2 separate regions of the Homo sapiens genome follow, and region 1 is linked to region 2. A link means that fine-mapping ties the variant in region 2 to the expression of a gene that starts in the linked region. Tissue or cell type: whole blood. Region 2 holds a variant in brackets; the other region holds the start of a gene. All regions are shown on one strand. Distances are from middle to middle.

Region 1 (8,106 bases), 48 kb before region 2:
CCTCTTGGGCTCGCTAGCAGACACAAAATAGCAAAATGGTTTAAACAAAAACAAACCGAAGGATAAGACCTCTATATACATTTGATAAAATAAATTAAAATGGGGAAAATATGATCTTGTGCCAATTAAAAACGTCAGTCTGGGGATAAAAATAACTGAAGATAGTAGGTCAGAAAGATAAGAAGAACAGGGTCTTTCTTTGATGATAGTATACAGTTGCTAAATTAACCCTGGGACTTCTTACCTTTAGACATTTTGTTACATAAGATAATAAGTGCCATTATTATTTAAGCCCAGTGAGTATGTGGTGTTTTGGGGGTGGGGAAGAGTGATGGTTATTTGCCGTTATTTGGAGCTGGAAACATGCTAACTGATAAATTATCCTTTTGGTTTATAGGACAATGTCCTTGATGCCCAAAAACATTTTCTAATTTTGACAGAAGAGAAAGGATGTCAGTAGGTGTTAACTAATGTGAAAAGAAGGTAGAATGGCTCATGTGTGTGATGGAGATGAGAACTGGGAATACAGAGAGATATCTGACCTGGTAGTAATTTTTTCTTGCATGACTACTACATTGATAAGCACTGTGCTAAAATTTTTCAATTAATTATTTCATGCAATCTTCAAACCAACTTTATGAAATATGTACTATTATTTTTCCTACTTAATAACAGAAAGTGAAGCTTAGCAAGATGAAGTGACTTGTCTAAAATCACTTACTCAAGCTAGTGTTTTTTGTTTGTTTGTTTTGTTTTGAGATGGAGTCTCACTCTGTCGCCCAGGTTGGAGTGCAGTGGCACGATCTCAGCTCACTGCAACCTCCGCCTCCTGGGTTCAAGCAATTCTCCTGCCTTGGCCTCCCGAGTAGCTGGGATTACAGGCACCCACCACCATGCCCGGCTAATTTTTTATTTTTAGTAGAGACAGGGTTTCACCATGTTGGTCAGGCTGGTCTCGAACTCCTGACCTCATGATCCACCTGCCTTGGCCTCCCAAAGTGCTGGGATTACAGGCGTGAGCCACCGTGCCTGGCCCCCAAGTGTTGTTACAAGGGTTTGAAACCAGATAGCGTGGATGTGTCGGGAGTCTATGCTAATGGTCACAAAGTTCATAGGCACCATAAAGTTCAAAGCAAACTAATTGCTAACAACCCCAGTTTTTCTGTTTGTTTTTGTTTGTTTGTTTGTGTTTTGAGACAGGGTCTTGCTCTGTCGTCCAGGCTGGAGTGCAGTGGCACAATCTCAGCTCACTGCAACCTCTGCTTCCTGGGCTCAAGCAGTCCTCCCACCTCAGCCTCCTGAGTAGCTCAGACCACAGGCGCATGCCTGGATAATTTTTGTATTTTTTGTAGAGAACAGGTTTCACCATGTTGCCCAGGCTGGTCTCGAACTCCTGGTCTCAAGCAATCTGTCCCCCTTGGCCTCCCAAAGTACTGGGATTACAGGTATGAACCACTGTGCCCAGCCCCAGTTATTCTTTACATTTAAGTCAAAAACGAAAACAAAAAATCACCCTTTCCCATGGATTCTCACAGAAAGATCACTACATAATATGAACAATATCCTCAGCAGACATCTTAAGCTGAAACTGTGTTGAGTTTTATCGGGATGCTTATTATTCAAAATGTCTCTTACTACAGAACTTGCTTTGACTGCATCCTCAGAGGCTGAAAATCTTTGACAGTTGAAAGAATGAAGGATGTGCCATCCCCAAATATGCCATATAATATATTGATTACTTTGAGTTGAAAACATTAGAGAAATTATAGTTTCAGAAAGGGTAAAACTGAGGGCTGACCTGATTAGGCCTGACACTTAATTTGCCTTGCTTGCTTTTGGTCACTTGCTTCTAGTCGATTTTAAAACCTGCATAGCTAAAAGTCATGTAGCTAGACGATACATAACTAAATTCCACTTGCCTCCTTATAGATAACTTCTCTGATAGGACACCATGGAAAATATTGCTTAAGTTATTTTTCAGGAACTTAGAGTCAGTTCTTGTCCAGTTCAAGCCACCAGCCCTTCATCTTGGCCTGCGTGAGTGTCCAATGGGTGACCTTTTGACATCAGAAGGCCCAAAACTCCACTCTCAGATCATGCTAACGTCACGATTTTGTGAACATGTGTTCTATGAACAGCCATGAAGATTGACTATGCTTGCTCAGATTACCGATTGCCTCACTTTTCCTTACCTCATCTTTCTCTGAACCTTGGACCACCTTCCTCCCCTATCCCATAAGCACTCCTAAAATTCCATCTTTGGAAAGGCACATTTGAGGCCTGTTCTCCAGTCTCCTGTCTTGGCTGCCTTGTGAATACACCCTTTCTCTACTGCAAAACTTGTGCGCCTCAGTGATTGGCATACTGTGTGAAAGACAAATGAGCCTGGTTCCCTGACAGGAGCTGAGCTGTCTCTTCCTGCATGCAGCCAGCAATAAAGATTCCTCTAGGAGAGGTATGTTCTCCACGCCAGAGCGAGAAAATAGCTCTCATCACCAGAGATTTGGAACTGGAGGTGGCATTTGGACTGGAGTAAACATTCTTGCAAAGTAACCATTATCTTCCACCTGTTTTACACCCCACCCCCCATATATCTCCTAGGGGCTCCCCTAGAAATTTTTTACCACCCTAGCCGGATTTTCTTTGTCCTGTCACTTCTTCTTAAATTTATCACTCTTTTTCTAAAAAGTATAAAAGCATCTTGCTTTGGACACTTTCTTCAGGATTCAGTCTCTTAACATCCCCATGTACATGTAAAATTAATAAAATTTGTATACTTTTCTCTTGTTAATCTGCCTAGTGTCAATTTGGCTTCTAGATGCAGCTGATTAGCTCACTAAGAGCTAGAGGGTGTAGGGGGTTGGAGGTGATCTCTGCCTCCCTTATTGGTGAACTTGATTTTTGTAAACACTCAAAAGTCACTTAGGCTAGAGTTGGAGATGGAGATGGTTATTCACTGGGAAGGCCACAAGAGAATGTTTTAAAGTGATGGAAATATTTCATATCTCGATTATGGTGTAAGGACATTTCATTATATATAAATTATATATCAATTTTTTAAAAAGCTCTCAGACCAAGGCTAGTCATTACAGCAAGAAAATAGGCATAGCAAATTTAAAACTTTGGAGAAATATATAGAATATTTGCATATGGTGATTCTGATTTGCTTTAAAAGTGACATGATTAATGTATTTAGACAAAAATACTCTTCGTTTTTCTTTGCTTTTATTTACGATCAGGATACAAGAATTCTACGCTGCTGCCAAATAAATGACTAGTTAAAATTAACTAACTGAATCCTTAACAACCATTCTAAGAGGCAGATATTATTATCCCACTTTATGCGTGAGGGCCCAGAACCCTGGCAAGGGCGGCACACTCAGTACGCTCTTCAAGCATCTGGGCACACCCGGTCCACTACAGTCCTACAAAGTCGGACGTGAGCACGGGCGAAGGCGTCAGCCGGGGCCACACGGGAGTCACTGACCACAGCCAGGCGAGAGCCGGCTTTCCGGTGCCGCCACATTCCGGGCACCAGGCTCCGGGCTCTTCAGAGCATTTGGGGCGGGCGACGGAGGTCCCGTCCACTCTCGCTTGGGTGCAGAAGGGCGCGGCGGTGCCAGGAAGCCGCCTTGGAGGCTCCAAGATTAGCTCACTCAGCGCGGCCAAGCGCAGGTGCGGGGGCCCTCGCCGCCACCCTGCTTATCTGGGGACAGTCCCGGAACCCGGTGACCCGGCTCCGCCCCAACCCGCGCCCTCGTCCACCCGCAGCAGCCAAGGCCTCTTCCCCGGCCCCGGGAGCCCGCGCCACGCCCGTCGCTCGCGCGTTCCAGTCCAGGCTACAGCAGGTATCGCGATCCCGGCCCTCGGCCCCGCGCTCCCCTCCCCCGCCCCTGGCGCTCTCCGAGTGTGGCCGACCATGAGGATTCCCAGTCTTGCAAATCGTGGGAGCGTGTCAACCGCCCCGTTTCTTTCCAAAGCCGGGCATGGCCCGGAAGCAGCTGATCAGATCTTAGTTCTGAATGTATAGTTCGGGTACGAGAATGTGACCCGTGAAAGTTCAGAGGAGTTAAGTAATTACAGCGTTCTGAAAGCGAACGTTAAAGGGAATTTACAACCGAAAAAAGATGCCGGTCTTCTTCCCCCATCCCAGCTTGCAATTCACAGAAGCACACATTAGGGTGGAGCCAGAAGGAATTACGGAAAGGACAATGAGGACATTGAGAGGGAGGGTATGGGGGGTTAAAGTTAGTCCTCCGAGGCCAAGAAGCAGAGTGTCTTGGCCTAGTGTCTGAAAATCGCAGCGCAGGACGGAACTTCCGAGAGCCTATACCTCCCCACTTCCCCCTCCAGTTTACAGATGGGCAAACCGCTGTCCCGGGTGTCTGTCAGGTCTAGTAGCCCAGAATCTCAGTGCCTAGGCTTCACTGTAAATAATAAACTATGTAAATAACATTTACAAATATCCTTTGTGAGCTCAGAAACTCAGCATTACCAGTAACTGGGTAGTGGAACGCATCCATCTTCGTCGTTTACTCCTTCTCCAGGGGCTCTCCAGCCTGCATTCCATGGCCAACAGCAGTGCAGCTGCAGAAGCACTTCTGGAAGCCTCCTGACTTGAACTAGACCTTGGGTAAATAGGGTTTAGATAAGTGGAGGGGAGGGAAAAGTTTCACCTGAGGGGAGAATGAGCTAGTCTGCCAGACCCTTATAAAAGTATTGGCCTGGATGGGATGGAGGGCTTTGACCTGAAAGCCACAGGGAGAAGGGAACCCTGAGGAATTGGCTGAAAGAGGGGGGTTCTTAGGAAATGCACCAACAGGGAAGCCAGCGCTTTACCAGGGATTTCATTCATGGTGGGTATATTATTAATAGAGATTCGAATTCTCTAGAAGCTGATCATTTCTAAGAGAAACAATATTTAAACATTACTGTCGAAGGAAAGGTTGTGGGGAGAAAATGTTCTAGTTCTAAAACAGAACACCCATTTTCCCTGGTTGTATATGAATAATACAAATATGTCAAAAATCAAGCTTACTATGTGCCAAGCACTCTAAGAACTTTTTTTTTTTTTTTTTTTTTGAGACAGAGTCTTGGTCTGTCGCCCAGGCTGGAGTGCAGTGGCACAATCTCGGCTCACTGCAACCTCTGCCTCCTGGGTTCAAGCGATTCTCCTGCCTCAGCCTCCTGAGTAGCTGGGACTACAGGCATGCACCACCATACCCGGCTAATTTTTGTATTTTTAGTAGAGATGGGGTTTCACCCTGTTGGCCAGGCTGGTCTCGATCTCCTGACCTCAGATGAGCCACCCACCTCGGCCTCCCAAAGTGCTGAGATTACAGGCGTGAGCCACCGCGTCCAGCCAACTTTATGAAATTTAATTTATTTATTCCTAACAACAAATCCAGGAGGTTGTTACTTTTTAAAATCAGTGCCATTTTATAAATGTGGAGGCTGAGGCACCAAGAGGTTGCCCAAGGTAAGAAGATCTGGACTGAGGCTGAGTGGTGTGATACCAAGCATCCTGGCTTGGCTGGAATCAGATTTGGGTTCCAGTACTTCCACTCCTCTTGTTTTGTGAATTTAGCTTATCTGAGCCTTCATTTTCTTATCTGTGAAATGCATACTGTAATCCCTCCCTATTAGTGAGACAATGAATGTGCAGGTGCTTTGTGAACTACACATTGTGACACTAATAGGAAGTGTAAAGCCTTGCACTTCTAAGGCCAAATCCCAGCTAAGAAGAGCAAATGATGAGCTGGGTTTGACTTGCAGAATTTAGTGGGCTTACTACTCACCAAGAGGCAAGAGATACAGTTGTAGTTATGATGATAGACTTTGGAGTCAGATGGACCTATGTTGGGATCCCAGCCCTGCCACTTATTGGCTCTGTGACCTGAGACAAGTCACTGAACATTTCTCAAACTGCATTATCTCCATGGTCCTCCATTTGTTCATACATAAAATGGGCTTTATATTCCTCATAGAGCAGTGATGAGGATTACATGAGATGCCACTGATACAATGTCTGCAAGTAGTGAGTGCTCAATAAAACATAGCTAGAGTCGTTGTTTTTTCTGATTCTTCTTGCTCCTCATCCTATTTCCTTTGTCTTAATTTCCCCACAAAGACACCCTCTCCAGAGCCCAGCAATTGTGAGGGACTGATGGAGAAGTATGTGGCTGCTATGGTGCTGAGTGCAGCTGGAGATGCCCTGGGGTACTACAATGGGAAGTGGGAGTTCCTCCAGGATGGGGAGAAGATACACCGGCAGTTGGCCCAGCTGGGCGGCTTGGATGCCCTAGACGTGGGAAGGTGGAGAGTTAGTGACGACACAGTGATGCACTTGGCCACAGCAGAAGCTCTTGTGGAAGCTGGGAAAGCCCCTAAGTTGACTCAACTGTATTACCTCCTTGCTAAGCATTACCAAGACTGCATGGAAGACATGGATGGGCGGGCACCAGGTGAGCACAGCCGGTGGGAGGTGCAAGGAGGGCAAAGAATAAAACAGCCTTGAGGAAATCATTAAGAATGTTGATGGAGATTTAAATAACAGAGACAATAGTGTTTGTAAATGTGATAAAAATAGAAATAACGGCCATGGTGGTGGCTCATACCTGTAATTCCAGCTCTTTGGGAGGCCAAGGTGAGAGAATCACTTGAACCCAGGAGTTCAAGACAAGCCTGAGCAATATACGGAGACCCTGTCTCTAGAATGGGGTAGCCAATCCCTCTTCTAGAGACAGGTACTGATCCGTGGCTTGTTAGGAACTGGAGCACACAGCAGGAAGTGAGTGATGGGCGAAGGAGCATCATCACCTGAGCTCTGCCTCCATCAGATCAGTGGCGCATTAGATTCTCATAGGAGCCTGAACCCTGTTGGGAACTGCACATGCGAGGGATCTAGATTGTGGGCTTCTTATGAGAATCTAATGTCTGATGATCTGTGGTGGAACAGTTTTGTCCCAAAACCTCCCCCAACCAACCCCGTCCATGGAAAAATTATCTTCTGTAAAACCGGTCGCTGGTGCCAAAAAGGCTGGGGACTACAACTCCAGAAAAAAATTTTTAAAACATTAGCCAGGTGTCATGGCACATACCTGTAGTCCCAGCTACTTGGGGGGCTGAGGTAGGATGATTGCTTGAGCCCGGGAGGTTGAGGCTACAGTGAGCTAGGATCGTGCCACTGCATTCCAGCCTGAGTGACAAAGCAATACCCTGACTCTAAAAAATAAAGAAATAAATAGAAAGAACCTAAATCTCTCATAATTAATTAAGCTGACACATTTGCAACCATTTAAAATTATTCAGGGTGACTCTACTCAATAACAATGTATCGTATATTTCAAAATAACCAATAGAGTAAATTTCAAATGTCTCACCACAAAAAAAAGTGAGGCAATAGATATGCTAATTAGCCTGATCATCCCACATTGTTTACATATATCAAATCATCACATTATACTAAATAAATGTATATAATTGATTTGTCAATTTAAATATTAATAAAAATTTAAAATTTGCAAATAATATTTACTAATATTGAAAAGTATTATTATACACTAATAGGTTATAAAATAGTATGTATGTTATGAACCTACTGTCCTTTAAAAAATAGATCTGTGGGGCCAAGTGCTGTGGCTTACACCTGTAATCCCAACACTGTGAAAGGCCAAGGTGAGAGGATTGCTTGAGTCCAGGAGTTTGAGACCAGCCTGGGCAACATAGCAAAAGCCTGTCTTTAAAAAAAATTTTTTTGAGTGGCCAGTTAAAAAAAAATTTTTTTTTTTTTGAGATGGAGTCTCACTCTGTTGCCCAGGCTGGAGTGCAGTGGCACGATCTCGGCTCACTGCAACCTCTGCCTCCCAGGTTCAAGCGATTCTCCTGCCCCAGCCTCCCAAGTAGCTGGGATTACAGGCACGCACCACCACGTCTGGCTAATTTTTGTATTTTTGGTAGAGATGGGGTTTCACCATGTTGGCCAGGCTGGTTTCGAACTCCTGACCTCAGTTGATCCACCTGCCTCAGCCTCCCAAAGTGCTGGGATTACAGGCATGAGCCACCATGCCTGGCCAAAAAAAAACTTTTTTTTAAAAAATAGATATG
Region 2 (8,106 bases):
CTGCAGGGAGAGGAGCAGTCTCCTACACACACAGCCTGCTTCCCTGACGCTGGGTGTGTGGAGAGGGAGCAGGGCCGTTGCTGTATTTAATGAGTTAATTCTCTCTTTCTTTTTTTTTTTTTTTTTTTTTTTTGAGACAGAGTTTCACTCTTGTCACCCAGGCTGTAATGCAACGGCACCATCTCGGCTCACTGCAACCTCTGCCTCCCGGGTTCAAATGCTTCTCCTGCCTCAGCCTCCTTAGTAGCTGGGGTTACAGGTGCCTGCCACCATGCCTGGCTAATTTTTATATTTTTAGTAGAGACAGGGTTTCACCATATTGGCTAGGCTGGTCTCAAACTCCTGACCTCAGGTGATCCACCCGCCTTGGCCTCCCAAAGTGCTGCGATTACAGGAGTGAGCCACCACGCCTGACCTTATGAGTTAAACCTTTAGTTTATGTCTTAGTCTACTTGTGCTACTATGACACAGTACCTGAGACTGGGTAACTTACAAAGCTCAGAAATTTATTTTCCCACAGCTCTAGAGGCTGGGAAGTCCCAGATCAAGGCGCCGGCACTCCATGTCTATAAGGGTTGCACTTTCTGCTCCCAAGAAGGTGCTTTGCTGTTGCATTCTCCAGAGGGGACAGATACCGTGTTCACACACAGCAGAACGCAGGAGGTCAAATAAGGGCCCTGCCAATTCCCTTGAGCCCTTCTATAAGGCACTATTTCATTCATGATAGTAGAGCCTTCATGACTTAATCCCTTCCCTCAAAGGCCCCACCTCTCAGTACTGTTGCACAGAGCATTCAGTTTAAACATGAACTCGGAGGGGACACAAACAAAAGATAGCCGTATATGATAGATGCATTTTGGCTCATTCAAGATCATCCCACCATGAATATGTCAGCAAACAAGGGGAAGTAAAACATTAGTATTACAAAATAACAAAAACTAACATTACTGAATGCTTCCTAGGCACAGGCACTGTCCTGAGAAGTTCATACATATTAACCCACTTATTTCAGACCTAGGGTATCTATTTTTTTTTTTTTTTAGACGGAGTCTTGCTCTGCCGCCCAGGCTGGAGTGCAGTGGTGCAATTTCTGCTCACTGCAAACTCTGCCTCCTGAGTTCAAGCGATTCTCCTGTCTCAGCCTCCTGAGTAGCTGGGATTACAGGCACCCGCCACCACACCTGGCTAATTTTTATATTTTTAGTAGAGATGGGGTTTCACCATGTTGGTCAGACTGGTCTCAAACTCCTGACCTCAGGTGATCCACTCGCCTCGGCCTCCCAAAGTGCTGGGATTACAGGCGTGAACCACTGCGCCCAGCCAAGTGTCTATTTTTATTATCCTCAATTTGCACTTGAGGAAACTGAGGACCTGAGATTATAGGTGATCTGCTCCTGGGCACACAGCCACTAAGAGATAGAGCCAAGATTCCCAACCACACTGCTGCTCTCTGGGGTTTTTGCCCATTGCACCTTCTGCCCTCTGGCCAGTCTCTGTTGTGCTTTGGTTTCCTAGTGCATCACAGCCTCGTGGAGTTTCACTTGAAGGAACTGAGAAACAAGGACACCAACATCGAGGTTACCTTCCTTAGCAGTAACATCACCTCTTCATCTAAGATCACCATGTACGTAAGTGTCCCACCTGGTTGACTCCTCCCCTTAGGAGTTGGTTACTTTTTCATTTTACACACATGGACATCCCAGGTCAGGGACTGTGTGATTGCTGATGCATGGGCCCAGCCGGCTTGGCTGGGGGCAGCACCTACTATAGATCCAGCCACAGACACATGCTGAGGAGCTGTTCAGTAGTGGGTCCAAGTATAGCAGATTCAGATGAGAGTAGGCAGGGCAAGCAGGCAGCAGGGATGGCATGTCCCAACAGATGGAGAGGACATAGGAATCAGGTCCCTGAGAGGAAACAGTACTCTGGAATCCAGACAGTGCGGGTATCAGGGATGTCAGTAGGGAGGAGGGCCTCAGTCACCAGCCCAGGAAGGGCTAGCCAGAGCCTGGAGAGCACCCACTCCTGGGAAAGGAGAGCAGTTCTGGGTCAGTTACCAGAATGGAATCTGAGGCACAGGGTCAGTCAGCAACGGAGTGCGAGCTGAGGGCCAGACTAGCGGCCAGGAGGGCTTGGTGCTGGGTGATTCCTGAAACTGGGGGTAGTCATTCCCTTCCTTTGTTGGGGCAGACTTGGGCTTGGGGGCTGGTGGGACTACGCTTGAAGTGAGAGGGCAAGGAACCCCAACTGTAGGGAGCCACAGCCTGCAGGGGATAGGAAGTCAGCAGCCATGGTGCATGCTTCTTTAAAAAGCAACCGGTTAGTTATTCACAAGCCAGCGGGAGACAGATTGTCAGATAATGTCACTGTCTCAGTGAGAGTCCGGTCAGGAAAACAGAGGAGGTCCAAGAGAAGGAATTTAGCACAGTGAACTCATTACAAGTGTGTTGGATGAGCTGGAAAACAGAGATGGGGACACAATGCAGAGATTAATCACAACAGGAGCCAATACAACCCTAGGCTAGAGGGACAAAGCAGGAGTGGAGTTGGCAAAGCTGGGTCCACAGGGAAGGCTGCTTGGCAGGAGCTGAACCCATGGGAAGTGCGGCCCCTCTGGAACCCCTGCCCAAAGCAGCCACCCACCTGAGCATGCTTCCACTGGGTTAGACCTCACTGGAACCTGTTGGTGGGGGAACCTGCAGGGGAATAGATCAGTCCAGAGCAAACAGGGAAATGACCAGTGCACACACACTTAAATGAGTGAGCAATGCCCTGAGAGTGACAGCATAGAAGACAGAGTCTGACTGAGTCCAAGGAAATGATGAGCAGGCTTTCCAGGAGCTACCCAGGCCAGGCTTAGAGAGAATGTGACACCTCTGGTGTGTCTGGAGCACAGATTTGGGGTTGTGGGGATGCTGTGAGGCTGGAGAGGCAAGTCAGAGCCAGACCCTGCCAGGCCTTGAAGGACAGGTTTTTATCCTGAGAGTAGTTTGGAGAGCCACTGGGAGTTTTAAACAGGACAGTGATGAGATCAGATGTGAGTTTGGAGATATTTCTCGGGTTGGGATGTTGGACATGAACTCTGCTGTGAGGCACTACAAGTTTCTGCTGGAAGGAGTGCATTTCACTCCCAAAACCGTGGCCACTAGCTGGTGTTCCTTCTGGCTCACCCAAAGTCACACAGCTAGGTACAGCCATCAGGATTCCAGCACAGGCCTGCAGGTGCCCACAGAGCCTTGCAGATTGTGGCTGGATATCAGTAAGCCAAGTACCTTTCATTAGACCCGCTCAAGGTTGTGCTACTTCTAGAAGGGTGTTTTCATCATCTTCTAGCCCATTGGTAGGTCCAGCAACACTGGCAGGAGTCATGAAAATGACCCACAACCCTGACTGCACGTTAGAATCACCTGGAGAGCTTTAAAAAATACTGACGCCAAGCCCCCCAACCCAGACCAATCACATCAGGGTCTCTGGGCATAGGCTCCACAGCTACATTTTAAAAGCTCCCCGAGTAATTCCAGTCAACATCCACAGATTAGCGCTTCCTCCTCCATGAAGAGGTTCACATAACTCTTTTGAAGAAGGCACCAGAACATGATTCACTTCTTGCAGATCAGAAATTGGGGGAAAAACGGGGAGGTTATGTGTGGTCTTTTTCCAAATTTCTATAGCTTTATGCGACGCTAAGATTTCCTTCTAATTGGAGAATTAACCTGGGCCAACTCCCCAAACCACTCACTTAAAAGATTTTTCATATTCCTTGTATTTTACAAACTCTTCAGTCTAAGCTTAAAGGAAACAATCTTATTTATTCCCTCTGTAATATTTCAAAAGACTTGTGAATTTAAAAAAAGAGGGAATGGTTTTTAAACAAAATTATACATGATCTTCCCTCAGAAGGAAAAAACAAGTGATATGACTAACACTGGACTAAAAAGAACACAAAGAGGCCCTATCACCACTCTGCGAAGGCCAGAAAGGAACAGGAAACCCAGTTGGCAAGGGTGGTTCCCCACACCACCCCT[G/GA]CCCCCGCCGAGAGGAACGCAGCGCCCTCCTTCTTTCCTCTTTTTCAGAGTCCCACTTGGATTCCAGGGAGGATCACAAAGGGCCCCACAAGTCAAATTCCTTCCCTAGCTGGGTGGTGCAGCTCTGCTGGGCGCCCTCCTTGATCCCCCACTCACCACCCTCAGGATCTGCTGGCTGGGCTGTGCCTTGCACTCAGCGTGAAGACTTTCCTCATTGAATCTCACGATTTTTTGCTTTTGTCTCCAGTACCTAGTACCTAGGGGGTACCACAGCCCTTTTGGAAGCACCCTGCTAGGTTGATCACTTCATACTCCTCCCTCATCTTTGTCTCAGTCCAAAGTGGTGCCTGAATCTTTAAACATAAAGGGAATCTGGGGGGGCAAAGCCAAGAGGCTGGGTTAAGACAGAACTGGATGCCATTTTCACTCTGAGTCTCCTCAGCTGAAGTCAGTATGAACCAAACCCTACGGTTCAAGTTCATAGCAGCATGTAGGGAAGCTGGAACTTACACCTAGTTGCTATGTGACTCCACAGCCACCTTGCCAGCTTAGGTAACTTGTCCAAAGCCATACAGCTGGGAAGACAAACCTGGGTTCCACCCAACTCTGTCTGCGCTTCATGATGTTTTCTTGTTGCTGTTTCCACCCACACATTCATACTTAGCCTAAAACAGAAAAGTCCTTACACAGAATTCTTTGAAAAGGAATGTCCTAAAAGAGGGTTTCTACTTCTGGGTAATTAGATCTGAAGGTGAAGATCTCCTCCAGCTAGGAATCCAAGAACGAGGAACAGTTTTTCCAGATATGAAAATCCAGGAGCTACTATTTTGTTGCAGTGTCCACTTGTTTATTCTAAAAAATCAACAACTACTTTCTTGGTCATATTCAAAGCTGTAGGTGTGGGCAGAGGGGCTGGTGAAGGTGACACAAAGGACTGTGGTAAGGAGCTAACCCCTTGGTGCATGACAGCCAACCAGTGCCACCAGCAGAGCCCGATCGGAGCCAAAGGGGAAGTACAGGTGGTAAGGGCTACAGTCATTTACTTTCCCTTTACCCTTTTCTTGCAGACCTAAGCAGCAACGCTATGGGAAAGGAATCATAGCCCATGCCACCCCACAATGCCAGATAAACCAAGTGAAATTCAAGTTTCAGTCTTCCAACCGAGTTTGGAAAAAAGACCGGACTACCATTATTGGGAAGTTCTGCACTGCCCTTTTGCCTGTCAATGACAGGTAAGCCCCAGTATTCACCTCTGCACCAGATGCACTCACACATCAAAGACCAGTCTTGGCATTAGATGTGCTGCCTATTGAGGTTCAATCTCATCATAGTGATTATCATCTTAGAAGCAGAGATGACAGACACCCGGTGTTTTCCAGAACCTCCTGTGGGACCATCTTGGGTTGGGGAAATTCCACTGTATTTGTTCTGCATATTTGGTTTCTATGTAAGATTTTATTAGAACAAAGTTTTCTCATTGCATATTTTCTCCTCTGTGGCCTCCACTCCAACTGTGTCATGGGTCACATTCATGGGTGTGGATCCAGAATCCACATCCCCTTTCCCTTCCTCTAAAGGCATTTATGTCATTAACCTTACCACCCCTGGGCACTTGGACCACAGGAACTGGCTCTTAATTGTAGGTGATTGCAGATTTCTTTCACCAGACATCATGGGAATTCAAAAGCCACACAATGCCAAGCCCTGTCTCCTCACCAGCCACTGCTCTCTTATTGCTCTTCTCTTCCAGAGAAAAGATGGTCTGCTTACCTGAACCAGTGAACTTACAAGCAAGTGTGACTGTTTCCTGTGACCTGAAGATAGCCTGTGTGTAGTTTAACCTGGGCAGGACACATCTCCCTGCATTTTTTTTTTTTTTTTGAGAGAGAGGTGTGATGAGGGATGTGTGTGTGCAGCTTATTGTAGACCATTACTACTAAGGAGAAAAGCAAAGCTCTTTCTTATTTTCCTCATAATCAGCTACCCTGGAGGGGAGGGAGAACTCATTTTACAGAACTTGGTTTCCTTTGCCGATCTTATGTACATACCCATTTTAGCTTTCCCATGCATACTTAACTGCACTTGCTTTATCTCCTTGGGCATTCGTACTTAGGATTCAATAGAAACATGTACAGGGTAAACAATTTTTTAAAAATAAAACTTCATGGAGTATCTGAATCATTTAATTGTTTTACTTGAATGGAATTCTGTTACCTACAAAAAGTTGAGATTTATACTCTGTGGGATTGGAGAAAACAGTATTGCATTATCGGTATTAAAATAGCAACTAAAAGAAGTACTTGGAAAAAGAGAGGGGATGAAGGGTAGGGAGGAAGATGGCACCATTTACCAACCCTTACCATTACCTCCTCTGGATATCTGGAAGGTTTGAGGGATCAGAGAGATCTTGGGGAATACAGGTAGATTTCCTCTGGGTTAGTGTTTCCCAAACTTTGATCTTTGTAAATAACCTTGTATCAGCCGCAGCCCAGCAAAAAACAGATGGTGCGCTCAATCTGGGTTATTTGAGGAGAATTTAAGAAAAGGACAATTTGCCATAGTCTTTTGTGGGGCAACCACAGGGATAATGCAGTTCCCTGAAGCTACTGGCAGTAGAAGCTGCTACTACCCTACCTGTGAAGAGGCCAGAGAAGGAGGGGAAGCACCAGAAGGCTGCAGACCTGCAGTGCAGGGACACAGCCAGCCAGCAGCAACCCCGCAGGGAGGGAGCAGAAGCACAGGTTCTCTGACTTCACTCTTCTTCCTCTCCCATTTTCCTGCTAGTGCTCCCCATTAAGGACCCCCAACAGAAGCCAGAGGACAAATAACACATTGACATGGCCTAACCAGGCCCGGGGCATACAGCAGGACAGAGAAGGTTGGAGAGTGGATGGGAAGGGGGTGCGGAACTAACAGATATGGCACACGCCTTCACCACTTTCCCAAATCCAGGTTGCCTCGGATTCTTTTATTCTTTAAATTCACTTTTTAAAAAACATAAATAAATGAGCTTTAAAAGGAAACTGCTGACTTGCTGATTCACTCTCCACAATGAAGACAGGGAGAATGATGTAAGCAACAGGCTGCAATTACTTCATCTGGGCCAAGTCAGCCAGGGCACTGAGAGAGCTTCGGCCTTTGTCCAGGCCTTGGAAATGCAACCAAAAGGACAGGTGAGGCTCACGAAGATGTTTAACTGTCTGCATGATCACAGTCATGTCTAAAGAATACACATGTTCCCTGCTATGTAGGCTTGCAATTTTCTATTTTGCCTCAAACCAAAAACCCTCCTTTCCTTTTCCTTCTCTTTACTCCACCCAGGTTCCTCCCTAGAGACAGTCTTACCCTGAGCTGTATTACGCTGCACTTCCATTTGCCATCTTGGGAGACACTGCTTAGCACATACTTCTTCCTTAGTTTTCCCCACTGCTCGTTGCTTTTTTTTCCAAATGTGTATCACATTTCTGTGATGAAAATCATATTGTCGGCCGGGCGCGGTGGTTCACACTTGTAATCCCAGCACTTTGGGAGGCCAAGCTGGGTGGATCACTTGAGGTCAGGAGTTCAAGACCAGCCTGGCCAACATGATGAAACTCCATCTCTACTAAACATGCAAAAAAAAAAAAAAAATTAGCTGGAAATTAGTCAGTGTGGCGGCACATGCCTGTAATCCCAGCTACTCAGGAGGCTGAGGCACAAGAATTGCTTGAACCCAGGAGGCAGAGGTTGCAGTGAGCTGAGATCATGCCACTGTACTCCAGCCTAAGAGACACAGTGAGACCCCATCTCAAAAACAACAACAACAAGAAATCATGTTTTGTGATGTTGATGCTAACTGGTGTTAAACTCACTCAATCTGTTTTTCAGTGGCCTCAAATTCCATTCTGCTTTTGGCCATAGCCCTGGGTTTCTTTGCGAATATTTTCTTATTTTTAAACACTGTTAGACTTTCTCACATGTTACTTTGCTCCGTCAGAAATTTTGGATTATTACCTTACATGGAAAAACCAGTTTCTCTACTCATAAATTAATCCTAGAAACAAATACAATGAGAACATTATAATGTTTAACATTCCAACTA

The links. PIP is the estimated chance that this variant, and not a neighbour inherited with it, causes the effect.
Region 1: ADPRH starts here. The variant in region 2 is fine-mapped to the expression of ADPRH in whole blood (TOPMed, PIP above 0.99). The same link has a PIP of 0.9 or more in blood mononuclear cells.

Annotation. Positions count from the first base shown.
Region 1 is chr3:119,576,004-119,584,109 of GRCh38, forward strand. ADPRH (ADP-ribosylarginine hydrolase) reads left to right here and starts at 3,489. Exons shown (of 5, transcript NM_001125.4): 1 at 3,489-3,848; 2 at 4,548-4,633; 3 at 6,131-6,464. The coding sequence starts at 6,167. RefSeq lists enhancers at 3,093-3,594, 3,379-3,478, 4,419-4,638, 5,743-6,942, 6,106-6,405 and a silencer at 3,659-3,798.
Region 2 is chr3:119,623,609-119,631,714 of GRCh38, forward strand. It overlaps PLA1A (phospholipase A1 member A), which reads left to right. Exons shown (of 11, transcript NM_015900.4): 9 at 1,516-1,624; 10 at 5,093-5,257; 11 at 5,776-6,203. The coding sequence ends at 5,860. Among named protein-coding and RNA genes, the nearest start is that of PLA1A, 30 kb to the left of the region's middle. RefSeq lists an enhancer at 517-716. The variant G/GA (reference allele first, on the strand shown) is at 4,026.